2 linked regions of the Homo sapiens genome follow. The protein of the gene in region 2 interacts with the protein of the main gene of each other region in a biochemical or structural test. Each region holds a gene or a part of one and is shown on either strand. Other genes may lie near its edges. The genes, in order: SYT13 and NRXN1.

Evidence for each region.
Region 1: the proteins of NRXN1 (region 2) and SYT13 form a complex in vitro, tested with the Homo sapiens proteins (one study listed by BioGRID).

The regions. Positions count from the first base shown.
Region 1 is NC_000011.10:45,237,796-45,254,221, reverse strand, and holds the end of SYT13 (synaptotagmin-13), read left to right. Parts: intron 1-1,499; coding exon 1,500-1,801; intron 1,802-7,709; coding exon 7,710-7,839; intron 7,840-9,865; coding exon 9,866-10,170; 3' UTR 10,171-13,920; downstream 13,921-16,426. UniProt on the Homo sapiens protein: May be involved in transport vesicle docking to the plasma membrane.
Region 2 is NC_000002.12:51,029,074-51,041,281, forward strand, and holds the start of NRXN1 (neurexin-1 isoform alpha4 precursor), read right to left. Parts: upstream 3,060-12,208; 5' UTR 2,908-3,059; intron 122-2,907; 5' UTR 1-121.

The sequences.
Region 1 (16,426 bases), on a different chromosome or scaffold from region 2:
TGGAGAAGCTGTGCAGGCAGGATGGGATCATCTGCAGCTGGAGAGAGCACTGGATTAGGACTCTAACAACCAGACCCTGGAACACATGGAGCTTAGACACAAAGATTTCCCACACTCCCAACCCCAACAGTCCAAAGTGGGGATTCCTGGTTGACAAACGTTTTTTCTCCAAATGGTGATTCAAGGACCAGACTCCTTCCAGCTGTGGCTCCATAACCCCCCTCTCCTTGTCATTTGTATCCTTGCCATCTGTATCTGGCAGATGGAAGGAGAAAGAGAAGGAGAGGGCGTAATCATTCCTTAACAGCCTTTACCTGGACTTGGTGGACGTCACTTCCGCTTGCATCCCATTGGCCGTAGCTCAGTCACATGAGCACACTCAACTGCAAAGTGGGCTGGGAAATGTGGGCCGACAGGTGCCCCGGAAGGAAAGGCAATGAGTTTGGGGTGAAGAACTAGTCGTCTCTGCCATAGATGAATTTGAAATTGGACAGGGCTTTGTGCTGGACACACAGCATGTTCCGAATGGTCAGAAAAGTTTCTACAATCTAAGAGCCAAGCGGCCTGAGGGTGGCAGGATGTCCTTGGTTTCTCTGCCCTGACAATTCACTTTAAGGTCAGCAACTAAAGCTAAGACTTTGCAAAGGAATCAGGGCTAGCAATGGGGTCAGATAAATTGGAATTTTGTATATAATTCTATTTTCTGAGGCTTTTTCCTTGTATTATCTTTTAAGATTTTAAAGCACCTTCCTCCTATACTTTATTATGTTTGGTCTTCACACTAGCGCATTTTACAGATTAGGAAACTGAGGTCTGGCAAGTCATATGACTTGTCAAAGATCACTGCATCTAACTGGTGACAGAGCCAGGACTAAGCAGTCCCTTGAAGTTCAGTGGAAAGCTCTTGCTGTTAAGACACATAGCCTCAGTTCTTCATCTTCTCTTCTTGTGAAATGTCAGCTACCACTTTCCAAACGATCCCTGAAGAGCCAGTCAGAAAAGTACCCAAGGTGTACATTTCTGGGCAGAGCCACACATTGTGAAGCATTGAAAACACCAAGGTTCAGAACATAAAGCCACACTCACTCATGAGGTAAGAGCCAAGTGATTCTCATGGAAAATGGTTATGTGGTGACTATTTAAAGTTCAGAACAAATGGTTACATGTCAGCAGCACCACTAATAAAGGCCCCCAGCAGCAAGCCTTGGCACCTTGGCAAAATTTCAGAATCCGGAGTTCAGAGGGCTCCAGGAAATGCCAAGTCTTGTCCCTGCTCTCCAAGAAAGAGAATCGGCATGTGCTGAGGCCAGCCCCCTCAAATGATCTATTTCTAAATGTCTCACTGAAAGGCGATTCCCTGGTGCCCAGGGTGGTCAGCCTTTCTGACACCCAAGGTCACGTCGTTAAGCTGGATTCCACAGCCCTAAGCAAGGCGTGCTTCTGCCCCCTCCACTTGTCCTCAGAAAGTCCCACGCCTGTGTTGTTCTCCTTGCCTGCAGCTGTGACCAGCAACCACGACGGAGGCTGTGACTGCTACGTCCAAGGGAGTGTGGCCAATAGGACCGGCTCTGTGGAGGCTCAGACAGCCCTAAAGAAGCGGCAGCTGCACACCACCTGGGAGGAGGGCCTGGTGCTCCCCCTGGCGGAGGAGGAGCTCCCCACAGCCACCCTGACGCTGACCTTGAGGACCTGCGACCGCTTCTCCCGTCACAGCGTGGCCGGGGAGCTCCGCCTGGGCCTGGACGGGACATCTGTGCCTCTAGGGGCTGCCCAGTGGGGCGAGCTGAAGACTTCAGCGAAGGTAGGGTAACCCCTGGGTTAGAAAGGTAAAACCTGCCCGTGCAGCATGGGATGGCAGAACCTGGTGTCCTCCCAGCAACTCAGTCTTAGGGAACAAGCCTCAGAGACCTCCCTGGCTTGGGGCTGGAAGGGAGGTTGGAATCTTGAATGGGGCAGAGGGCTAGAGGAGACCCATAGCCCAGGATCTGGGATTCCTAGTGTCTGCTCCTAGTCTTGGCTCTAACTTGCCATGCAAAGACTCTCTCTGCCGTCATGGAAAATGCCATGCTGTGTGTATTACCTTTACTGCTATGAAGTACTGTCCCCATTTCAATCCAGTTATACTCTGTGTGCTCCTACGATGTGGCAGACACTGCAGGACACTCTACCTTCCTCCGTTTGTGTAGGTGAGCATGAAGGGTGGAGCCCCACCACTCAGGAGTGTACAGACTAGGGGACAAATTGGCACAGACAAATGATGACGATATTTGATGTGTTCCACCCTGAGCCATGTAAGAGAGACCTAACCAATGTGCTCTGATAAAGAATTCTAGAAGGCCCCGTGTGCTAGGCTCTGAAGGAGCAATCAGGGCTGGGGGCAGGCCCAGAGCCCGGTGGTCCATGCAATCCCCAGACTCAAGATGATTTCCCCATATCTGCTGTTGGGGGGCCACAAGTGGGAAAGAAGGGTCTTCTGAGATGCCACAGCCCTCAAGAGAGGGGACCCTTGGGGAGAAAATCATTGTTTCCCATGCGCCAGGACAGCAAGGGGATCTGGGAAGGTCAGGGCTACAAGATGGTATGTAGTTACTTAGGCCCCTGGGTCAAAGCTCATCTAAGGGCCTGCACTGTGGTTCCTTGAGGAAACCTTCTGGGTGACTAGTCTCTCAACCAGATTGGCAGTGCTATACTGATCTAAAGACTGTATAACCTGCATAGCCCCAAATAGGTGTTATTATATTAGCCCCTTTCCAGAAAATGTTTGACAACCCTCATGCTAAAGCAAAAAGCAAAATACTGATTAGGGCACTATTTTTTTTTTTTTTTTTTTTTTTTAGACAGAGTCTCGCTCTGTTGCCAGGCTGGAGTGCAGTGGCGCGATCTCGGCTCACTGCAACCTCTGCCTCCTGGGTTCAAGCGATTCTCGTGCCTCAGCCTCCTGAGTAGCTGGGATTACAGCCACACGCCACCACGCCCAGCTAATTTTTGTATTTTTAGTAGAGACAGGGTTTCACCATGTTGGCCAGGATGGTCTTGATCTCCTGACCTTGTGATCTACCCCACCTCAGCCTCCCAAAGTCCTGGGATTACAGGCATGAGTCACTGCACCCGGCCAAGGGTACTATTTTTTAATGCTCACCATCAGTTACTATGCTTAGGACTCTACCTGAGTGCTGCCACTCTCCAAATCAACCAGATGAGAGAGACACCATGACTATCCCTCTTACAGATGAGGAAACAGGGTCATAGCAGTTCAGGAATCCACACAGGGTCCCACAGCCAGGAAATGGCAGACCTTGAGGCCGGGTTGGTCTGACTCGAAATCCTGTGCTATCTCATTACCTGCCATGAAAGCCACCTGACAAATATGAGGTGTGACCAGCAGGCACCTTTCCTAATAGACACCCAGACTGCAGGAGGGAAGAGTACGTTTCACCCGCTGTCTGCTCCTCTTTTTGCTATGATTTCCTCCTTGCTCCATTTTTTCCTCTTTCCCAGGCTCAGAAAATTGTTAGAAAAATCACAGCCACTCTCAGATGGAACTCAGCTGTTCCAAAGCCCACTCTCTAATTAGTGTGTGATTTGGGACTTCTGTGGAATCACAGATGGGGATCCTGGGAGAAGGCATCAATACTTAGGATTATTAAACTAGTAAACTAGCTTTCTCTCGAGATGCAGAGACTCCCCTGCTGGGCTCTGAGACTTGGTACAGCCCCAAAGGGCAGAAATCCAGCCAATCTAGGCAGAAGTCTCAGGCACCTAGCAGCTTCTCTCACTGCCCTCTAGAAGAGCAGCCATCATTCACTCATTCATTCATTCTGCAAATACCTTGCCCAGTTTCTACCATGTGCCAGGCGCTGTGCCAAGAGCTGGGGACATAGCAACAGTAATTAAGATGAAGCCCTGACCTTGCAGCTCATCCATCCTAATAATTATCATACTTTCTGTAGCTGTTTCTGTTCTGCAAATATGTACTCACAACCACTTTGATCACTGACCTGTTTACTACAAATGTGAACAACCTCAGAGGGTGGCATGGAGTCAGAAGTAGGAGGTGACTTTCTGGGTGTATAGGGCAGGAGAAAGCTGGAAGTCCAGGCCAGGCAGCCCCTCGCCCCAGCTAGAGGGTGTGGGCTGATTTGAACAAGGTGAGTGGAGCCCTCAGTCATTGCAGCCCAGATGTTTTTCTTCTCTAGGCCAGATGGGTTAACAGACTTGCCCACGGTGCCCAGTTCTAGCTGGAAGATACTCAGCCAAAAGTGCCATGTGCATCAAGAGTGACTCACAGGGCAATCCACTCCAAGAGCAGTCTTTGATTATTATTATTATATTTTAAGTTCTAGGATACATGTGCAGAACGTGTAGGTTTGTTACATAGGTACACATGTGCCATGTTGGTTTGCTGCGCTCATCAACTAGTCATCTACATTAGGTATTTCTCCTAATGCTATCCCTCCCCCAGGCCCCCACCCCTGACATGCCCTGGTGTGTGATGTTCCCCTCCCTGTGTCCAAGTGATCTCATTGTTCAATTCCCACCTAAGAGTGAGAACATGTGGTGTTTGGTTTTCAGTTCCTGTATTAGTTTGCTGAGAATGATAGTTTCCAGCTTCATCCATATCCCTGCAAAGGACATGATCTCATTCCTTTTTTATGGCTGCATAGTATTCCGTGCTGTATATGGGCCACATATTCTTTATTCAGTCTATCATTGATGGACATTTGGGTTGGTTCCAAGTCTGCTATTGTGAATAGTGCTGCAATAAACATATGTGTGTATGTGTCTTTATAGTAGCATGATTTATAATCCTTTGGGTATATACCCAGTAATGGGATGGCTGGGTCAAATGGTATTTCTAGTTCTAGATCCTTGAGGAATTGCCACACTGTCTTCCACAATGGTTGAACTAGTTTACAGTCCCACCAACAGTGTAAAAGCATTCCTTTTTCTCCACATCCTCTCCAGCTTCTGTTGTTTCCTGACTTTAATGATCGCCATTCTAACTGGCGTGAGATGGTATCTCATTGTGGTTTTGATTTGCATTTCTCTGATAAGCAGTGATGATGAGCATTTTTTCATATGTCTGTTGGCTGCATAAATGTCTTCTTTTGAGAAGTGTCTGTTCATATCCTTTGCCCACTTTTTGATGGGGCTGTTTGTTTTTTTTCTTGTAAATTTGTTTAATTTCTTTGTAGATTCTGGATATTAGCCTCCAAGGGTAGTCTTGCATGGTTCACTAAGACCTGAGAGAAAGAGAGGGGCAGGGAAAACCAGGGAAAGGAAGAAGAAAGAAAGGATTACTTTAGTCTGCAGGTACTTTCAGCAGCAGTGCCCAGGGAGCAGGTGTTGAAATTGTCTGGCTATGGTGCAGCCGGCTAGGCTAGTTAGACCTCACCCTATGCAAAAGTGAAAAGCCCTGCAGAGGCTGACAGGTGCTGACTCCTCTCACCTGGTCTGTAGGTAGCAGAGGACTCAAGTCTGGTAACCCTGTGGCTATAGCCCGGGCTACCTGTGGCCCTCTAATAATCAGTGATGAGCCAGGAGGCTGGTGCCCATCCCAACTCTGCAGTCACCTCTCTGGGTGCCTGGTACAAGTCCCTGGGCCTCAGTTCCTTCACTGTGAAATGAGAGGGTTAGGGAGGGCTGTCAACTGAGAAAGCTGGAGAGCCATGGATTCAGGACTTAAGTTTTGCTGTCAGACTGGACCTCCTTTCCAAGGCTTGGTTTTGCCACTTCCTGCCTACATGACCTCTGGCAATGATGTTCCCTTTCTGAATCTGAGGTTCTTGTGCTTAAAATGGGAACAAAATCAGTAGCCCTCTTGAGGTTGTCATCAAGATTATAAATGGAATGTGTTACCCTTTTTTCACAAATGTTTATTGTGTGCCCACTGTGTCCCAGGTGCTGGAGTTGCATAGTGTGAATGGAGGCCACAGTGGAGCTTACTTTCTAGTGGGATGGACAATGTAATTGCACTTCACACACAGTGTTTAATAAATGTTAGCTGCTACCATTCATTTCATTGCCAAGATCCTTTGAGGCTCCCAAATCATTTCTTCATATGACCAGTCCCTCAAGACTTGTGGAATCATTGGGGTCATGCAGAAATGGAGGCTTAGAAAAGTTAAGTAACTTACCCAAGGTCATAGAGGTAGTAAATGGTAGGATTGGAACTCAGACACAGTTAATCTGGTTTAGAGTCTATGCTCTCAGCATTACTCTTATTCTGGGTTATTAATAATTGTTGTTTTGACTGTTGTCATTAGAATTGTAATTTATGACCTTTACTAAGAACTTGCTATATGCATTTTCTCACTTCATCCTCTGATATCTATATTTCTTCATAGCATTTAATGCTGCCCGATGTTATATATTTAATCACTTCCTTTCTGTCTTCCCCATGTGACTGCAAGCTTCTTTGAGACTGATTCTGTTTAGTTCATGGCTTTAATTATGGCATCTGGAATATAGTAGGTGCATTGCATATGCTTGCTGAATGAATGAATCCACTAGAGGCCACAGTGAGCAAAGAAAAACCGATTTCAACCCTTCTGAGTGCCTGGTCCAGGATGGATGAACAGACATCCTGGGTGTGACAGAAGGGGAGGAAGCTTAGGGAGTCACGGTGGCTGTTAGCCAGGGCTCCAGCCTGGTACCAGACCTCATTGAATTACCCTCATTGCACAGCTGGGAAAGAGGGACAAAGCTGGAGGGAAGGGCCACAGGACTGAAAGCTGTGACATCTGGAGGGACAAGCTTCCATGGGGCCTTCCCCCACTCCCACTCCCCACTCCATCTTGGCACAGCAGGCCACACATCTGCCTCTTCCTTGGGATTTCGAGGGAAGGGCATCTTCTTCCTGCTCAACAGAGGAGACTTCTGACCTTCAGCTGATCCCTGCCCACACACTCCCTTCTCTTTCCTGCCAGGTCTCCCCAGAGCTTGGATTGCAACCAAACACCCACCTCCTAGGAGGGGTCTTTCGGTCATTCTTGTCCCTTGACGGATTTGTTGAAATTCCAAATAAACTCCTGTACGAATTTCAGGAGAGTTACTCTAAAGCTGCGTGCAGGGATAGATGTGTTTGTTTGGATGCCTCACAGGGGCATCAGCACCTCCTTCAAGGTGTGGTTATTGCCAGTTGCCTCTGGGCATGATCTACCATCATACACCCCAGCACTTCATTGACATTACTTGTCATTCTGTTGATGAAGCAACCTCCTGGAGCTGGAAAGAACTATCTTTTCAAACATAGTAATGAATTACAATTCTCCCGCTGCCCCAGGAACCTGATGGGTCCATGCAGGGATTCTGAAACTGTTCTCTGAGGCCCTAGAGGACAGAGGTGTCCCAGGAGCTTGGGGGTGGCAGAAGGTGAAGGGTAATGGGGAATTCTGGCCTCCTCCCCGCTGCTGCATTCTGAGTAGCCTTTCTTTGTTCTGTTTTGTATGTTGGATTTGAGTATATGGTATATGAAAAATCACATTTTGAGGCAAACAAAGAAACTGCTATTGAAGCGCATGCCGCATGGAATTCCTCTGTGCCTTGCTCTCTTCTGCAAGGGTGGACACCCCAGCATTGACGGGTAAATGGTTTCAAGGATGCGTGTTGGATGCAAATCCAGCATGGTTCCAGCTTCAGCATTTGTTGATGGGTTGGAAGGCGTCCCCAGGTGAGACTCCCCTCCTGCATCTCCTTTTCTGTTTCAGGAGCCATCTGCAGGAGCTGGAGAGGTCCTACTATCCATCAGCTACCTCCCGGCTGCCAACCGCCTCCTGGTGGTGCTGATTAAAGCCAAGAACCTCCACTCTAACCAGTCCAAGGAGCTCCTGGGGAAGGGTGAGTGAGATGTGAGAGGATGGCCAAGGCCCCTCCAGCTACCGGGAGTGTGTGCTGAGGGAGGTGGTGCCTGGGAGGAAATGGTCACAGGTAAGCAGGGAGGTGGAATATGAGCACATCTACGGAGCCATGCTCAGCGGTGTTCTTCACCCTAAGTTCACAAATTGATTTTCGAGGACACACTCACTTCTATGAGTTCCCATCCATTTACTCTTGGATCAATCCCATCCATTAGGACCCCAGTGTGAGCTACCTGGGGTTCCCTACCTTGGAGATCCACTATGAGAACCATCAGCCCTAACCACAGAGCACAAGAAGCCAAGGGTCAGACTATAGCCGTGGAGTGAAGGGCCTGGGCTGTCGGGAAAACTTGGCCCAGCCCTTGTCACCCACACCTGGCTGGACCCACCTTTCAGGCAGATGTCAGGAAGGCCAGGTTATTCCCCTCCTGTCTGAACTCACCACCACTGCACTCCTGCCACCCACCCCAGTCTCTTCTCTCTTCTCAGCCTTTGCCAACTGCCACCCTCACACCAGCTGAGTGTGGGTGATGGCAGAAGGTGTGTGGGTACATGGGCTGAGGCCTGAGGCTTCAGGCGTCTGTGCCCCATATACCCAAATAAGCTTTTCTGCAACACCCTGGAAGCCTCAGTTTTTCCTTCTGGATACCCCAGCCCAGGTCCAGCATCTCGGAGACCAAAACAAGCTCTCCTATATGAGCAGGAAAGCATCCTCAGCTAGCCAGATAATACCTGGACTGGAAGCCACATGCGCCTAGCAAGATATAAATAAGTCTCTATTTATAGCAGGGTACAAATAAAGAATTGCCACTGCATTCTGAATTTCGAGCAAAAGACTTGGGGCTAATGGAATCAGAAGAGTTGGTCTTGCTGGCAGGTTCCTGAGTCAAAGGTCAAAGTTCAATGCTTTTATCTCATTCCCTTTAGACAATTCTTTGCTTCTTGCTCTCTTTTATAGCTCCTGTCAGGACAATTACAGTACAACACTTCGTCTCTCAACTCTCTCTGTAGAAATAACAAACTAACCTCCCAGAGGTGATAATTACAGCAATAAATACAAAGTAACAATTATTCTCACATTAGCTTTGGAAACATTGACTAAGTAATCCAGTCCAGCCTTGTGATGTGACATGAAAGCTCGCCTGGTGACCTGTTTGTGGATTTCCTTGGGGCCAGCTCTCTTGGTGCAGTGCCCTGGGTTTGGGGGAGCGTGCAGGAACAGGCAGTCTGCCTTCATCCCTCTTCCACATGAAGTTGGGGGTCTTCAAATAAAACTTTAAAAAGTACGGATGAGAAGAACTCAACCAACCAGCAGGGGATCTCCTATTTTGATAACAGACAAACATGCTTACACCAAGAATCAAGGGGATGAAGAGTTGGGAGCTGGCTTCATTTTTCTGGTCTGAGTTTAAAATCCAGCTGCAGGACCCCTGAGCTGTTGTCATGGACCTGGTTTGATGTGAGGATATGAAGTCATGTAGCAAAGGTGGTTCCCTCTTGGTACTCTAACATGCCCCAATCACAGGCCACCCAGTGGCCAGCCTTCTATATCATGGTATTGGCCGTTTCCTACACTTTAGTGTCAGTTCTATGGAGGCAAGAACTTCTGCTGCATCCCCACTTCTAGACCAGTGCCTGCCATAGGGTAGGCACTTAATATTTGTTGAATGAATGCATGGCCTAGTGGGGGAGTGGAGAATAATCCCCAATGCAAGGAAATGAAAGCATCCTGGATCGACTCCTAGAGTTATAGATTGTCCGGGTGGGATGCTTTCCTGCTGGTATAGCAGAGCCTTCTATGGTCACATAGACTTGGGACCTGTGCTGGGGTATCCAGAAGGAAAAACTGAGGCCTCTAAGATGTTTGGGTATATGGGGCACAGATGTCCGAACTCTTGAGCATCTTTCCAGCACCAGGAGGGAGCTTTGTCCTGGGCCCTGCCAGATCCCAGAAACTCACTCTTGTCCCTTCTCTCTGTCTCTTTTTCCCCTCTGCCCCTCCCCAGATGTCTCTGTCAAGGTGACCTTGAAGCACCAGGCTCGGAAGCTGAAGAAGAAGCAGACTAAACGAGCTAAGCACAAGATCAACCCCGTGTGGAACGAGATGATCATGTTTGAGCTGCCTGACGACCTGCTGCAGGCCTCCAGTGTGGAGCTGGAAGTGCTGGGCCAGGACGATTCAGGGCAGAGCTGTGCGCTTGGCCACTGCAGCCTGGGCCTGCACACCTCGGGCTCTGAGCGCAGCCACTGGGAGGAGATGCTCAAAAACCCTCGCCGGCAGATTGCCATGTGGCACCAGCTGCACCTGTAACCAGCTGCCCAGCTGCCTCCCTTCTTGGACAGCCCTGACCCGTCCTCTGCAACCTCCTTTCTGTGCCCCTTTCCTCATTCTGACACCCAGAAGACAGTGACAGATGTGTTTGCAAGGCTGGGATGGCTCTCTCATCATACTCTTGTTTCTTAGAAATAAGCAAGACAGAGCAGGAAATGGAATATGCGGGTCACACTGAGGAATGCATTTTGCTCATCTGTGTTATTGAAGGAGGTGCTTATTAAATACAGTTCCTATGCCTGTTTTATAGGTGGGGTTAGGCCAGATGCAGAGAAAGCTAAATGTGGGAATCATGGATGCAAAGAAGAATTTGGCTTTTTGAAAAACAAGCATTTCAAAAATGATGAAGGAAGTGAAAGTATCCTGGATCAACTCCTAGAGTTAGAGATTGCCCAGGTGGAAAGAAACCTTAGCCAGCGTTCAATCAAGCTCACCATGCAGGGCAGTCACCCGGCAGTTCTCAAACTTTAGCATGTGAAGAGTCACCAGCAGATTCCTGGGCTCGCCTGGAGACATTCCTAGTCGGTATTCCTGGTCGAAGCCCAGGAGCCTTCCTTTTTAACAAGCTGATGTAGAGGGTGGAGCACTGTATGTGGAGAAATTCCTTCTACAATATTCCACACAGGTTTTTGGCCACAGTCCTTGATGGAGTCCCAAAACCATGGTGCAGCCAGTTCCAATGCTGGACACCTCAACCATCAGGGTGAAATCTGGGGCCTCAGCTTTTTAATTTAATTATTTTAATTCTTAATACTTTAATTTGTGCATTTCATAAGCCCCCTGCTCTTGGACTGAATTTTGTGCTTTTTATTGAAGAATTTTATTGTTTTTATCTTAAAATCAGTTTCTATTATCCTTGGGGAGACCATCCCTAACAAAGTACAGGTGGGATCTCCTGTGAGTCATTGGCTGGGTTCTGATTGCTAGATGTCACACCCACCAGCATCACCAAAGTGACTCTGAGATAGACCGGTCCCTTCTCAGCGTTCCAGTCACTTCAGGAGGAATTTAGTTATTGACTTAGTCTATGACATCTGGCTACATGTAGGTAGAGAAGAAAGATAATTTTAAAAAGGAAATCAGGTCTTTTGCAACTGTGCCTCCCTCTGTCTGTTTTCACTTGAATGGGTAAATAACCAGCAGCTAGGTTTTGAATTCCTACCTTGTTATTCTAAACAGATGTCCACATTGTTAATTAAATCTAAATTATGAGCCTTGCTGAGTGGATACGGTACTTACACCTGAACCAGGATTCCTGGGTTCTGTTGTTGACATTGCCCTTCAGCACCTGTTTGGCCAGCTGTGTAAGATAGGACTAATGACTAGGAAGCCTACCCCAATGAATGATATACTAGATGAAATAGTGTTCAAAACCTGTAGGCACTCTCTGGCTAAAAACAAACTCTGAGGCCACCAGCAGATCATCTTTAAGCTAAGTTACTATTTTTCACCTTTTTTTTTAGACGGAGTTTTGCTCTTTGTTGCCCAGGCTGGAGTGCAGTGGCACGATCTCGGCTCACTGCAACCTCCGCCTCCCAAGTTCAAGCGATTCTCCTCTCTCAGCCTCCTGGGTAGCTGGGATTACAGGTGCCCACCAACATGCCTGGCTAATTTTTGTACTTTTAGTAGAGATGGGGTTTCACCATGTTGGCCAGGCTGGTCTTCAACTCCAGATCTCAGGTGATCTACCCTCCTCGGCCTCCCAAAGTACTGGGATTACAGGCCTGAGCCACCGCGCCCGGCCTATTTTTCACTTTAATTTGGCAGCTGAGAATGCCCAGAAAGTGCCAGAAGCATCGTGGCATTTCCAGAACCATGGATTCTGCCTTTGGACCCCTCTCTATTAATATTAAAACTCTGGGCCTTCAGATGTCACCCTAATCCACTTCCCTAAGACAGAATTTCTGGACAAGATGGGTAAGGGCTTCATTCCTTCAACAAGTCAAGTCATACTTGGCCTCTCCCTGAGAATCTGAGCAGGAGCCTTATAACCTGTGGTCATTATTTTTTCTTTCTGTACAGAAATAGAAAAGCATTAGAAATAACTTCTAACCATCCTCTGAAAAAACAGAAAAAATATCGAATCCCTCTTTCATGAGAAGTCTTTTGGATAATTGGAAACCTTCATCACTGAGGTTGGCCAGCCCCTGCCAAGTGTTGTGTAGGCAAAGCACTTGTTAGTGGCTTCCTATGAAATGTTTTAGAGATCTCTTCACCATACTGGTTTCTTCTCTTTGGTTGGTGTGGGTAAAAGAAAACAAAACATTTCCTATAAGCTGAAAGCTGACCAGCATTCTCTTCTTGGTAACATCTACTACTCCAATCTAGAAAATTTGGATTCTAGACCAAAAATCAGGAAACATGGCTCCTTATAAATCTGTGCAGCTGCCTTATAGTACCATCAAAGGAATTTCAGGTGGGCTGGGCGGGGCCCCGATCCCAGAATTATCAACTCCACCCATCATCATTTGGTCATGAAGCATCCTTTCATTCTTCTTCTTCTTTTTTTTGGGGGGGCGGGGCGGGGGAGGGATCTCAAAGTTTTAGTCTTCCAGAATCCAAATTAAAGGTTGCCCCTGATGGGGGCCAGGTTCCGCCACAGAACATCTTAGATGTCAGCCTTGACCTCACTTAGCAGGGATTACAGAAATGAGATACATTTTGAAGGAGAGTTGTCTGTTATGTTCACTGTATTCTAAGTGCCTGGGATAAAGCTGTCTCATGGGTGCTCCATATATATTCATATATATTTGTTGAGTGAATTAATGAATTAAGAGTGGCTGGCAGAGTAGGCAGAAAAAGACACTGCAAATGGCATAAAAATTAAAGTCCTAGCTGAGTTCTCAATGGTAAAGGCATCAGATGTCTTAGCAGTCAAGCTAGAAATTCATGACAATGAGTATTACTATTTGCCTAATGGCAACTCATTGCTCTCCATGTAAATGTAATCAACAGATGAAGAGAATATAATTGCTCTGCTTTTCCACTAAAACTCCATCTTAGTGAATTTTAAATTATCCAGAGATGTCAAACTGCCAAATAAAAATATTTCAGTAGTCTTTGCATCAGCTTACCTTGTACCAGAAACATTTCCAATTTACTATCAAATTATAGTAACTGAGCCTGTGTGAAGTATCTCATCATTTTCGAAAGGAACACCTTGTGTGATGCCAGTGAGCATTTCTAAAAAGGGTGTGAGGTAGAGGTAAAAATAAGGTGAGAGACCATTTCAGAATGCACTGTTGCTCAAAAAGGTGATCTGGTTCTTTCTTCAGAGATTTCTACGGGGATAGAAAATCGGGAGTCTGCCCTCATTAATCTGTGATTCCACCTCTTGCACCAAATCAATATCTATTTGTTGAGCACTTATTGATTAAGACCTTGCATATGTCTGTCCATTTTGATTTGAGATACAACTTTTTGTGTGGGTTGAATGACAAATCACTCCAAACAAAGCTGGGCACAGAGAATCAGCTAGGAGACCAGTTATTCAGGGTCCATTTCTCTTGGATGTAAAGGAGTCCTGGGTAAAATGTGGCTGTAACCTAAACCAACTAGTCCTTGTGATTTGTTTCTGCCCTCTGTGTTTCCTGTTGTCAAATGCTAAGTGTGTGTTTTGCAGTCATGAACTAAAGCACAAAAAGATGCATGAGACATTGTAGTCATATGTCTGGTGTGACACTTTGGAGCAAAAACCTTGCAGTGGTAAATAAAAAATTTCCAACAGGGTCAGCTGCCTGGTGTTTTCTTTTTTTCCGTTTTACCTAATATTTTGGCATATAAAATGCAGAAGAAATCATCTGATAAGCACTTATGAGCCACTGCCATGTTTAATAAAACTTGACAACTACAATTGAAGTACCCTCAGTGCCCTTTACTCAGAAGACCATGACCTTGGATTTGGGGTTTATCATCCCAGGCATTCCCTCATACTTTTATTACATGTCTCTGTAAGCCCTGAGTTCCATAAAGTGTTTTTAAACTTCATTTAAATTGTATCACACTATTTTCACTCAACATTAAATATTTCAGTTTCATCTGTGCAGACACATGCAGCTCCAGTTTATTTCTTTTTCACTGATGTATGATATTCCATTGTATGGATATGCCACAGTCCTATGCAGTTGATGTATATCTACATGTTTCTTTTTCTTTTTTTTTTTTTTTACTGTTACAAGAAATGCTGCTATGACATTCCTCTGCATGTCTCCTTGTGCGCTTGTGTGAGTTTCTCTAAGATATATACCCAGGAGTGAGTCATAGAGTACTCTGTGCATGTGCATGTGTGTGTACCTTGGTGGCCTTGCTTGAGTACTGAATCAAAGAGGCTACATACAATTAGGAATGCCAAGGTTGGGTGAAGCTTTTCAGGGATTTGGCTTCATTGCTGGGGAGAAAAATTTGGTGGAAACTACTAACTTCTCTTTCTTTAACATTCCCCAAAGAAATACTCCATCAATGGAAGGGTCTAGTAGCAGCCAGTGGTACTCATGAACTCCTGGTGGCAAGCAGGGACAAGGGCACTCCTGGAGTCCTGTCATCCTAAGCCTTCCTGGTGGCCACTACAGCCCTGGCCTCTGGAGGAAGAGGGATTAAGCAAGGGGCAGAGCCTGAATTTTCAAGCTAGTAGAAAATTAGCCAGGTCACACAGAATTAAAATAGAAGGTTCTTAAATAGGATAAACAATCCATAAAGAAAGCCATGAGATGTCGTTGCTTTCCAAGTCTGCACATAATTCCCTATTTTATATTATGTATACACATACATTCTATTGTAATGGCAACTAGCATTTAAATTTTCATAATAAAGTAGGATCAGTTGGTTTTATCCCACATAGTCGAATGTTATGCAGACTATGTTTCACAGGTAACTATGAATATGGCCCACCTGAACCCAAAACTCATACTTAAGAGTCTGGATTGATGTAAAAGAGAAATGGAAGAGGGAAGCAGAGTTCATGAGTCACTTTATACATGGACTTTCCATTGAAATGCTTCGAATAACAAGCACTGTTCCTGCGTATAAAATTGACTCATGTCTAGAGCATTGCCTCAGAAGCTGGGAATCTGCAACCCGGCTTGGCTTTGTGACTGACCACTGTAAAATGAATTTGGAGCAAATGATCACTAAGGCTCCTTCCAGCTTTAACATTTTGTGATTCTATGACCTAGACTGTCAACAGCTTTGGCTCCTTCCAGCTTTAACATTTTGTGATTCTATGACCTAGACTGTCAACAGCTTTTTTTTTTCTTTTTTAGACAAGGTCTGGCTCTGTCACCCAGGTCAGAGTACAGTGGCACAATCTAGGCTCACTGCATCCTTGACCTCCCAGGCTCAAGCAATCCTCCCACCTTAGCCTCCTTAGTAGCTGGGACCACAGGCACATGCCACCACACCCGGCTAATTTTTTGTATTTTTTGTAGAGATGGGATTTTGCTACGTTTTGCCCAGGCTGATCTCAAACTCCTGGACTCAGGCGATCTGCTCACTTTGGCCTCCCAAAGTACTGGATTACAGGTGTGAGTCACCACACCCAGCCAACAACTTACTTTTTACACATACCTTTAGCCTTCTATCTTGTGCATAAAACAAATTAAACCTACATACATGTGTACTTGCCCTCCCTGCCCCATGCCTGCCTGGCAATGTCCCCCGGTATCTCCTGACACTCCCTCCTGACAGCTACCCACTCCTCTAGACAACCTGAAATGGCACCTGAGGCTTCAAGTCAGCCTCTTCTCATTTGCTTAATTGCTAATGGAGCTGGTGGTAATTTTCCATCCAAGAGTTTCATTTTTTTTTTTTTTAGAGCCAGTTGGAAGCATCACCATTTCAGGAGCTCTGAACTCTAGCATCTGTTCTGTCTCCCTCCTGAGGCAGACGCCTGGCAAGGATAAAGCCACAGGATGTGGCTGTGGATGGATTTAGGGAGCTGGGCATTTTCTTAGTCCAAGTGTTGGAGAACTGTCCCCTTGCTCCACTTCCTCATCTCCTGCAGGTGAGCCAGCACAGATGGCCCCTGGCAGGGACCTCAGCAGCTTCCTCAAGCCAGAGAAGAAGACCCCTACCTTGGAGGAGGATGGGAGGAAGCCAGACTTTCTCCCAGATAGGCGCCTCCATCTCTAGAAGCCAGACGTTGCCATGGAAACTGAGCTACTGGTGGCCACTGTGTGATTTGGCCCCTGTGCTCGCTCATCCCCAGCCAGGTTTGGTCTCCTGTCAGTGCAGCCTATCC
Region 2 (12,208 bases):
AACAGCTCCTCTTCTTTTCTCTCTGCCTCTGCAGGGCCAAGCTAAGATGCCAGCACATCAATTGGTTGTGTGTTGGTGATGCATTTTGGTTTTATCTTGTCTTTTTTAAGGACTCAGACATCTGCAGAGAATTAAAGTCAAAATTAAGGTCTAAAGTCAATATAGTATTATATAAATCATTATTCAGCTCATAACACAAGTGTAGACCTGGTCCTATTAGTAAGGCAAAGAGTTAACCTTCTTGTATGGAGCTTTTGTTATCCTCACTACAAGTAAGTCCTAACATTTTCTAATAGTTAATATGACACTTTTACAGTCAGCCATGACACCCTTGTAGTTTATTATAACTGTTAGTTGGTAACCCGAAGTTTTAAAGAGAAATTTGATTATGGTTATCTTTTTCTTTTCGCAAGATAGTTTAATTTTTAAAATATGTGAGGGGAGAACAAATGCTTTTAAGGATTTCTACCTATGTTGTGTGCTTGTTCTGTGGACAGTAAAAATACAACCTATTCAAATCTCAGTTAAGAGATTTTACAATTGGCAAATTAGATTAAACTGTTGGCAGGAAGCTGCCAGCTTAGACTTGTATAGCATTCCTGCCATTTTATTTTTCTTAGAAGGAATATTGATGGTTTCTTGATAGTCTCTTGCAAAATTTCACACAAGTATAGTTCTCCTTTATATTAATGAATAATCTGTTGTAAAAGAAAACCACTAATTGGAGCCAGATTTATGTTTTTGGCATTGTCTCAATTGCCCTAATATTAACTTCTCTAAAGGTGCATAAAGTATTTAATATTTTGCCTAAAAGTGTAGATCTAACTCCTCCTGAAGTCTGTATCTTGCTGTCAGCCCTCACAATTTGTGTGGTCAGAAGAGCTGTTGGCATGTATGTCATCTCAGCTGCAGTGGCTCCAGGATGCTAGAATTTAAAACCGTACCTTTGAATCACTCACTATACTATTAAATCACTTCTCTTTATTCAACTCTAATCTGACAGGTTCTTGAAATGGTACAGAAATCATAATCACTGATTTTTTTCCTAAGTCATTTTTTAACCAAAAAATTACTCTTACCTTTTGAAAAAAATTACAAATGTATAATCTGTTCATGTCAAGGAAGTGCATTATTTTTCTCACTATTTCTTATATTCCCCACCTCTTGCAAACACACACACTGCAATATATATACACCATACACACATGCACACACACACCCCAAATTTATTGTCTGGATGTAGAAGCTCACTACCCAATTAACACTTTTTTTCCCTTACAAGCTGAAACTAGCAGTAATTTATGGCACCGCATTGTGCTGCTGCTTCTCCATGGGGGGAGCTGAGAGCATTTCTCTTCAGTACAGAGCAATCCCCACAGGTGTCAGCTGAGAGCCACCAAGCTAGGGTATCCCACTTCAAGTTCCTCCCAGATGAAATTGATGACTGGTTCTCTCTCTTTCAACACACACACACACACACACACACACACACACACACAGTGTGGGTGTGCGCACATACACACTGCCCACTAGCAAAAGGAAATAAAAATCTCAGTTGCTTATTTATTATGGCTGATACATTCCACACCATCAGCAATCACCAGTCATATCTTGTCTTCTCCTATATCAAACCCGAGGAAAGAGGCTCGTCAAATCATCTGAAATAGCATATTATTCAGTATACTTTCATATTTTAAGTGGACTCAGGAATCTGCTAAATTTTCAGTCATTTGCAAAATAAATCTGGAATATCATGATCAAGAGTAGTGCTTTGAACCCTTTCTCAAGCTCATGTGTTAGAAAACCTTTTTTTTTTTCTTGTGTGTGTAACTCTGTTGGAGCCAATTATTGTATTAATTAATGTTACATTGATCACATAACCTTTTTTCTCCCGTCCCTCCTGCCCTCCTCCACTAATGCACACCTTGACAATTTTAAGGGATGGTGGAAGAGAGAAAAACCGTAGAGCAATATATATGTACATATAGATATATATACATTCTTATCACAGGGAGGTTAACTGGTTTTCCCAGTTCTTGGAGGAAGCTCATTGTATGTGAGCGAGTATCTGTATTTATATGGAGAAAAGAGGATTCTCTCTAGGTGCCAGAAAGACCTGGCCAGTTCACAAATTAGAGGATGAAATAAAGGGATCTGAAAAACATCCTTACTGCAGCCAAAAGAAGAAGCGCTCTAATTCAAAAGCAGACTAACAGCATCATTAATCTTTTCTTTCATTTCTAGAATCAAATTCATCCCAAGTCACTAGGAGGATCAATACAGTACGCTCATCGGCTGCAGTTGCATATTTTAATGTTTCTGATATCACACACACATACACACCTACACCTTTCCATGCACCCTTCAATATATATATATATCTTCATAAAGAACATGAAATCTCTGAGAGAAATTTTAGAAGTGCTTATTATTTCACCCCTGGCTTTTGCAAAGTCTCTCAATACCAATGCACAGCCAAAATTCTCTCTGGCTTTCCCGCCCAGTCTCTAAGCTCCATCTCTAATACCAGTGCAGTTTCTTGGAGCTCGGGGTCTACTGCACAAATTAACGATGGGCACAGTGTGGGGCTGATGAGGTAGGGAAGGAAATATATGGAGAGATATTTTATTGCTTTGATATCTAGCCTGTCTCTTATTTTCTTTCTTTTGCTAATACATCACTGCATTCAGCCTTTAAGTTACTACCCCAGTTCCACCATCTCTTCTTGCCATCTATTTAAAAGGCTTCATGCAAAACAACCAAGATCTACACTCCTCCACCCTCCCACCACCCATCTTTCCCTGTGTATTTGTGGCAGATCCTGGCTCAGTTACAATGGGGAAAGATATCCTTCTTCAGCTTGCCTCGCCCCATCCCCTCCCCCCAACCCAAATTGAGCTTCTTTACCTGCCCGGTTATTCCCCTCAGCTCGAGCCAGAGCCTGAAGCATGCATCGGTCAAAGCGAATTTCCTGAGGTCTATGGATAAGGCGACTGCTGCTGCCTTTTCAGAGGCGTCAGGCTTGAGCGTCTATCTCCAGGAGTGCGGGAGGGGAGAACAGGCAACGGAGGGGAGCAGGAGGAGGAGGAGGAGGAGAAGGAGGAGGAGGGGGAGGAGAGGGAAAGAGCTGGGAAGGAAAAGGCGGTGGTGGAGCCTGAGAAGGCTGGGTTACGTGACGCCGGGTGCTGTCCTTCTGAAAGAGAAGGGCGGAGCTGAGCTCTCCGCAGTACCATGGAGAGCGGCGGGCCCGTCCTTTGGCTGGGGAATGGGTGGGCTCGGCCCGTGGTCGCAGCCCCTCCAGGTCTGGATGCTGCGGAGCGAGGTGCTTTTACCTTTGCATCGTCCCCTTGCAGGGGGAGCCTGATCCTGGGGGCGGGGACCTTCCGCAAGCGCTTCTAACTTGTCACCACCCTCTCTTCCCCATCGGAAAGAAAGAAAGAGAGAGAGAGAGAGAGAGAGAGAGAGAGAGAGAGAGAGAGAACGAACGAACACGAACCAGAGAACCACGTAGCCTACTGAGCATGCCCAGGCCCCTGCTAGACCCATGGAAAGCTGTATGGAGATTCCACTTCTCCGGGGTTTGGTAGTGATTGGGCGGGGATACCTGAGAGGGTGCCAGGAAAGGGTCCAGCAGTCAAAGAGAAGGGGCCAAGGAGTCGATAATTATGATGAGCTCTGGCTTTACTTGTGCACCTTGGTCTCCTGCTCGGAACCCTTGAAAAGAAGCTGCAGCTTTTCGAGGAATGCAGGGGCAAGCAAGACTCACACAGGCACTGGCATTCTTCTAGATCCGATGTCCCTTGCCCCACCCCTTACTGTGGCTCTGCCTTGGGTAATCACAACAAATCTTCATGACTTGCCTAGGCTGTGCCAAAAAGATGTAAAAGGAACCCACCAGGGTAAGATGCCAACTTGCAGACGACGATCAACTGTGTCTGACAAGGTGCTTTTTACTGCAGCCTGTCGTCATTCTCCAGCCTTCTGTGCTCTGTCTTGAACCAAGTTTTCTACCTGTTTAACTCTTCCCTCCGTCTCCTCCTCCCTTTTGCAGCTGGTAAAACCTGGTGAAAGTAAAACTGGGTGTGAGGCTCTAACCATGCAACTGGGCATGCCCAATAGGCATTGCTGGGTTTGGTGAGAAAGGGGTTAAATCTAAGGGAGCTTACAGATTAGGTGGTAGAGGAGTTCGGGGTCTGTGGCTTTAAATTATGGTTTGCACCCTATGGACATTTAAATTCCTATTCCTGTATATTCCTAGCCTGGGTTAGTTTTGGAGCAGATACAGACATTTTTATTGCAACGCCACAGACCTAATAGTCTGAACCTCAAATACTGTAAGGCAAGACTATTTTTGGCCTCCAGGCCCTATAGAGCAAGAATTTAAGAACTAGATAAATTTGGGAACATCAAAATAATATATATTACAATTACAATATGTATATTCTTCCAAAAAACTAGAACTCATTCCTATGATAAGCCGATTTATACTTTCACTACTTTTGTAAAAGGGTCTAAATAACCTGAAGGCGGGTATCACAGGTTTTAATATGTTTATCGCCCTTAGAGAGGCAGTTTTGTCAAGTGGTTACATGTTTGGGAAATAGATTGTCTGAGCTTCAATTCAATCTCTGCCATTTATTAGTTGTAACCTCAGCAAGATACTTAATCTTATGCTGCCTCAGTCACCTCATCTGTAAAATGGATATAATAATAGCTCCCTCTTCATGTGTTTGATGTTGTGAAGATGAAATGAATAAATAAACATAACATATTTGGAATTGTGGATTCCAAATTGTGGAATTTTGGCTATATTTATCAACTACAACCCACTCTGTGTTCTGTTTGACTCAATGGAAGGAATTTCTCTGAAACTCGAATTCTTTGACTATAAAATAGAGGTATTAGTCATTGTCAGCTTATTCCATAAGATTGCTTTGGGAATGTAATGAAATAATAGCTGTTAACATGATTCTTAAAACAAAAATTTAATTTTAAATGATGTAAAACTAAGACTCAGAAAATTACTTATCTAAATTATTCATTCAGTGAACTTGAAACAAAAAAACAGTCTAGTTAATTCAGGGCCTTTTTCAATTTTTCCTACCATTAGGTTATAGGACAAATAGTACAGAAGGTACACCGCGATGTGTTTAGTATAGAGCTAAAGCTTATTGCAAAAGTAAGTGGAATGGACAGCCCACTTTCAAAAATCAAGTCTAACTTGGTTCCATGATGCTCTTAAGATCTGGTGTGAACATGCATCAGTGAACATTATGGTAGTGCTAGAGGCACTCTTAAGAGTCAAAGCACTGCCTTTTACCTGGATTCATAAAAACTCATTATTTACCACCAGTGCATGTGATCTGAACAATTTCCTACTTTATTTCATTTCGTCTTTGTGAATTTTTATTTTATCTTTAATTGGGCTACACAGTGTTTCCACTGAATCAAGGTTTTCCTTGAGATGTCTTCTGTGGTGTTTTGATTTAAAAAAAATGTTGACATTCTTATGCTGCATGTGTGAATTTTCAGATTAAAAAGACCAGTGTTCCCACATCTCTTCACCACTGCCTCCCTGACACACACACACAAACTATATAAACTGAAGGAATAGATGATGTATTGGAGTAATCCCCTTTGCAATCAGGTTTAAGGTACTTACTGTATGTAGTCCAAGGAAGTGGACAGCCCCAGGATCTTTTTTTTTTCAGTAAATATGCATAGAGAAAAGTATCAGTTTGTAGCTTAGAATGCAAATATCACAACATAATTTAATGATAAAAGTTGTTAATTTATTTTAAAGTATGAGTTTTTCTGTTGTTTCTCCATAAATTACTTCAACTCTCTAAGTGGCAGTTTTGTCATCAGTAAAATAAAGATAATGGCATCTCCATTTATATGACTTGGTGGAGATAATGTCAACATTGAATGTTAATTTTGTGCCTACTCCTCGCCAAACAGTGCTCCAAGTGCTTTACTTACATTAACTTATTCTAACCTCACAGCAACTCTAAGAGGTAGGTTCTAGGATTTCACTCATTTTACCAATGAGAAAAAGTGAAGCATAGAGAGATTAGTCCAGATAGTCAAAGTCTAGTAAGCAAGCAACAGTGTGAGGAAAAATCCAAACTCAATTCTGTAATCTTAACCCCCTTGCTACACTGACTTTGAACGGATCATCAGATATACGTAGCAAAGTGCTTGGCAGAATGCAGATGCCCGTAATTGTTCATTCCTTTTCCTTTCTAAGACTTTCATCAAGAGGAGTCTAGGAAACTAAACAGTCAACTCCAGAATTTTGCCATAACATTCCTTAATGACTAATACTGTATGAAATATATGATATTCATGTACTTTGTTACATATTATAGGTGACGTGTTTTCAATGTTACTACCTTTTTTGTTTGTTTCTGGGCAAGATGTGAGGTGATTCCTGTAGATCTGAATTTGAAGCAATCTAACATTTGTAAGAACAATCTAGTATTTTTCTAGAAGGTGGGAAGTAGGATTAATTCCTCCTGAATCACCTTAGGGAATCTACTAATTTTAGGCTACAGAAATATGTTAAGGATTTCAACTCCTGCCCCTAGCTACCACTCAGAACAAATGAGGTAACTGCGAAATCAAGGTGCTTGTTTATGATTATGTCTGATTGGGAGAATTTGTGGCAACCCAAATATGGAAACATAAATAATATCTCATGCCATAAACTGGTAAACATTTTGCATCAATGAAAATGGAAATGCATGCTCACCTAAAGCAAGTATATTTCCATAGGTTATTAATATTAATGAGAATTCTAACATGGAGACTAATGCTACACTAAAAATAAATGAAACTAAGTAGTAAGATTTTTTTTGACTGAGAAACGAATGCAGCAGAGATGCTCTGTGTTTATTGCTGCAATCAGACCCTGTGCTTTAACATTAGGAAATCAATGTAAACACCTACTTTCTCAATTAACATTAAGGTAAAGTGGAAGCTTTGAGATACCTATGAATTCCAATATTGATATCAGTTATGAAGGGTGCTTTACTGATATAAGGGGTAGAAGAAGAAACACATGGTAACAATGAGGAAAAATACCAGTTGATATACATTAAATGCATTTTCACTTAAGATGAGAAACAACTCAAAAAAAACAGTAAGATTTATCGCTGAGGGGATTTTCTATTTACTGTCCTATAGATGATCAAAATGAAGCCACTTTTACTAAAATAATCACAGTATCAGGAAAATATTACGTGCTAATTCAACTAAATTTCAGATTGCTATCAAATTTCTCTAACCAATTACATTATCAGTGCTGCACAATTGGAATTCTATTGTTTAGCTCATGACTTTATTTTAATAATATAATCCATTTTTTGTTTGCAGTTAAATGTCTCTAGTTTTCTTTATATGAACCAATTAGAGTTTTCTGGTTACAAAAGTTTAAGAATAGATATTGAACATGCTGCCATATAAAATTTATTTTACAACTAGATGAATTTAAAAATGCAAGGAAATGTAATCAAGTCTAGGGTTTGAGACTCAGCTATAAAATGGAATAAACAGACTAGGATTTACATGTACAAAAAGACACATAATTTCCTATTAAGCTTACTAAGTAACTTTCAGGAGAAATAAGCAAACTCAGTATGTTAAATACTTTCTTACTACTTGAAAAAATCTTAAACATAGTAAAATTAGGCTACTTTTCCTTGAGTATGTAAATTTTCTGTAATCAGAAGGTAGAATGTGATTTAAAATGGCTGCAAATCATTAATGTAATGATAATTATTAAGGTATCAAGCAGCAGTAGAGAAAGCACGTAGATAGGTCCTTGAGAACAGTAGTTAAGTTTTGAACGATGCACCTGCTAGAAAGGCTTCAATGTGGAAACCCTGCAGCGTGTTTGATGGGCAGTGTTTTTAAATCTAGGGCAGCACTTACACCTGAGTGTGTTCCTCTGTGTTTACTTCCACCCCTCCTTCCCCCACAATGAGGAAAAATCTTTCTGAGGAAGAATAGCTGTCGCTAGATGAAGTCTGTGAAAAGTCCCTGCCAGAGGGTTTATGTTTCCTCGATCAGTGATTTAGTTGCACACTTCAGCCTGTCATTATTACCCCCTCTAATGACTTATTTCTCTTCTTGTGAACAGAACTTTCTTCCCCACAACCTAACTCTACACTCAAGCCTGCCATTCTCAACTGCTAGGCTCCAGAAAAGGAATTATCTCATTCATCACAATGTGGCTTCCAATTTATTTTTATTGGGTGCCTGCAACTAGTTAATCTGTTTAATTTAGCCAGTGCTATTTAATATTCCTTACTATGACTTTTAAGAAAAGAGCAAGGGATTTGTGATGAGTTATGGATGTCAGTGAAATTCAAGAGTCTTATTATAATATCTTTGCTTCTTTTTAGCCTATTTCTGCCCCCTAGAAATCTGTGGAATCAATTTTCTGTGATGGCATCTCGAAACATTTTGTGGTTTGCTTTTAAAACACATCCTATTTGATTTTATGTTGGGCTTATGGATTTTTAAAAATATTCAATTCTTACCAGTTTTCCAGCTACTGCCCTCCTCCTACTTAATATAGCTTTAAACCTCATTTTTTTTTCAGAGTTTTCTTCTCATTTTTGTTTGCCTTTCTCATCCATTTGTCCTACTTACATTTTTTCATTTAATACTACAGACACCCACAGAGATAGATATCTTAAGAATACAGAAAGTTGTAGATATTTTATTGTAACTTCACAAATTAGAGCAATAATACCCGCATTTTATGTAAAAAAAAAAAAATCTTAGGTTTTTGAAGAGACTCGTGAAGCAGAATAGGGAAGAGTTTTATTTTGATAAGAGTTTTTCTCTTGCTGAGGAAAGAAGATCAGTGAAATAGGAATAAACTACATCCTTAAGTATATGCTTGATGTACACATCCCATTGAATGAAGTTATAGTACAGTAGAGGCACTTTAATTTTCTCTAGAACAAGGAGAGCAGACTGCAATGCTTAACAGTGTCTGGTGTTTGACATACATGAGTGAGGTAGGCAAACTGGGAAAACAATGAGGATTGGCAGACAGTGTGGACACCTAAAATGTTCATACTTCTCTAAAAATGGCGTTCACTCTGCGGCCGCAACAGCTTGTGACCATGTGAGTCTGGTGTTGCCAGATCCTACGATTTTACAAGAGCAGCTGGAAATCTGAAATGTTATGTAAAATCTTCTGATTTTAAAATCTTGGCTTATTAAAAAATAATCACCACTACTACCACAATACTGTGCAGGACAAAATAGACTTCTCTGCTGGTTGGAAATGGCACACAGCCTACCAGTTTGTTCCCTTCACAGCTTTGTATACACGTACACATGCAAACTCATAATCATGGGTGGTTATTCTCTCTAGTAAACATTTCAAAAGATTGATTTACATGTTCTAAATTCAGCCAAGCACATAGGATAGATAAAACAGTACAGTTGCTATTAAAAGTTGACCTTTAGAACATGAAGATAATTGTTTTGAGTAGTTTGGTATGTTACAAGAAGCACTGAATTCTGAGTTATATGTGTTTCTAGCTGCAGCCTTATTACTTGCTTTGTATGGCAACAGAGACAAATCTCTTAGCTTCTCCTATAGTAGTACCTGCATGATATATGTTGGGAGTTGAATTGTCCCCCTAAAAGATATGTTGAAGTCTTCACCTTATCTATGAATGTGACTATTTGGAAATAGGGTCTTTGCAGGTGTAATCAAATTAAGATAAGGTCATACTGGATTAGGGTGTGCCCTAAATCCAGTGACAGGCATCTTTAAAAGGAGAGACACATTTGAAAACACAGAGGAGATATAAGAAAGAGAATCATGAAGACAAAGACAAATTGCAGTGATATAACTATATAGCCAAGAAATGCCAGGTAATGCCAGCAACCAGCAGACTACTCAAAGAGAGGCATGGAACAGATTTTTCCTAGGGAAAGAACCAACCTGGCTGACACCTTGATTTTAGCCTTCTAGCCTCCAGAATTCCGAGAGAATAAATGTTTTATTGTTATAAAAACCACCCAGTTATATTTTAAACCACCCAATTTGTGATAGTTTATGATAAACCTGGGAAACTAGTACAGGATGCATGATAGAGGATGGAAAAATATAGTTATGCATAATACTATTATAAGAGACCATTTGGCAGATGATTTTACATATATATTTCTTTATCCATTACAACCTTGAAAATTAGACATTCTCTCTCTCTCTCTCACACACACACACACACACACACACACACACACACACACACACAGGCTTGCTCTCACTTTCATTCTCTTTGTCTTTCAACCAACTATGGCTTGGAGATGCTACCCATCTTGCCTTCAAACTTGTAGACCGCTCCTGATAGAGTGAGGACCAAATCTTTCTGAAACTAAAGTCCATATTCTTGTTCACTGTACCATTCTATTGTGGTACTTTTCAAATGTAGAAAACTATAAATATAAGATACAGACATTATTCTAGAGTCTACTTTTTGAGAAATTGAATATAAGAAGAGAAATCACAATAGAGACAGCAAGAATACGTCACCCTAAACAGATACATCTCGATACATTTTAGGTAGAAATAAATCTTGGATAGTGCGGGACAATTCTCCAGGAAGCTTTTAATGCACTGAGTTCCCCCTGCCTTTTTCTTCTAGTTCTCAAGAATAATGACAGAATTTGCTGAGAATGCAATATCTTGAAATAGAGAGGAATGCGTGAAATAGCCCAGGCCTTGGCTCCTGTTCCCCCTAGGAAATATAACATCTTCAGTTATGAATTAACTGCCTGGGACAGCCCAGGCTTTGCTCCTCTCTCTCCAGGAAGTAGGACGTCCTTCAAATTGTTGCCCAGTGAGTTCCATGGCCCTTTAGATATATAACCCAGGGCGGACTGCCTTTTAAGGTCTGTCAGCTGTGGGGCAAGTGGGCCACTCACAGCCAAGGCTCCATCCATTCTAGGCAGTTTTCTTGGGGCTTGGGGGACCTGTTTACAATGGATCCCAGGCATCTGTTGTCCCTTGCTTCCGATTTGTAAATAATAAATCTCCATCATGTAACTTGTTGTTTATGAGTGTGCTCTGTCTCATCAAACTCAGACAAGTTGGTAACCAGTGCAAAGTGAACCTGCTTTCCAAATAGGATGTTAGGATAAGAAAAAAGGAATATTCTAGATTTCTAGTGATTTAATACTGGCAGTATGTTTAAATAAACGTATTTATTATAAAATAACATAATACAAGACAGAAAACGTAAGTCTTGATCTTGATGAATTTCAAAAGATGAACATACCCTTATGACTTTCACCAAGATAAAATATTAGAATATTAAACTCCTATTCCTTCTAGTCATTTTCTATTCTCTCCTCCATAAATTTAATTAATAACTTGATTTCAAACTACCAAAACTAATTTTGCTTGTTTTTGCTATCTAGATAAGTGGTATAATTCAGTATGTTCTACTCTGTGTCCGCCTTCTTTTGTTCAACTTTATGTTTGTGAAATCCATCCATGTTGCATGCAGCAGTGATTTTGTTCATTGTCAATGTTGAATTCAGTTTTATAAATTTACCAATATTTATCTAGTCAATTGTTGATAAACATTTGTATTGTTTTCAGTATTGGACTCTTACAAATAATGTCTTATAAACATTGTACATGTTATTTGTTGCAAATATGTACACAATTCCACTGGGTTCATGCCTAGGAATGGAATTGCTGGGTCATGGGTTAATTTTAGTAGTTGTTGACAAAGAGATTTCCAAAGTTGTCACTATTTATACACTGAAAAACAGTGTGTGAGAATTTCTCTCTTTCTGGCCAAAAAAATTTATCAATCATTTTAATTTTAGATATTCTAGTTGGTTTCACTGCTATCTCATTAACATTTTATTTTTTAATTTCCAGATGACCAATTATGTTAGGTACCTAATTCATGTATTTATAGGCCGTTAGGATATCCTCTTTTAAAAAGGGTCTATTCAAGTCTTTTGCCCATTTTTAAATAATTTGATTACTTGTCTTTTAAAATCAATTGTAGGGACTCTTTACATTTTCCGGGTATGATTGCTTGTGCAGTTATATGTATTAAAATATTTCCCCCATCTGTAATTAACCTTTGTTCCTTCTTCATTTTTTTGATAAACAGAAAACTTAAATGTTAATGTAATTCAATTTGTTAATATTTTC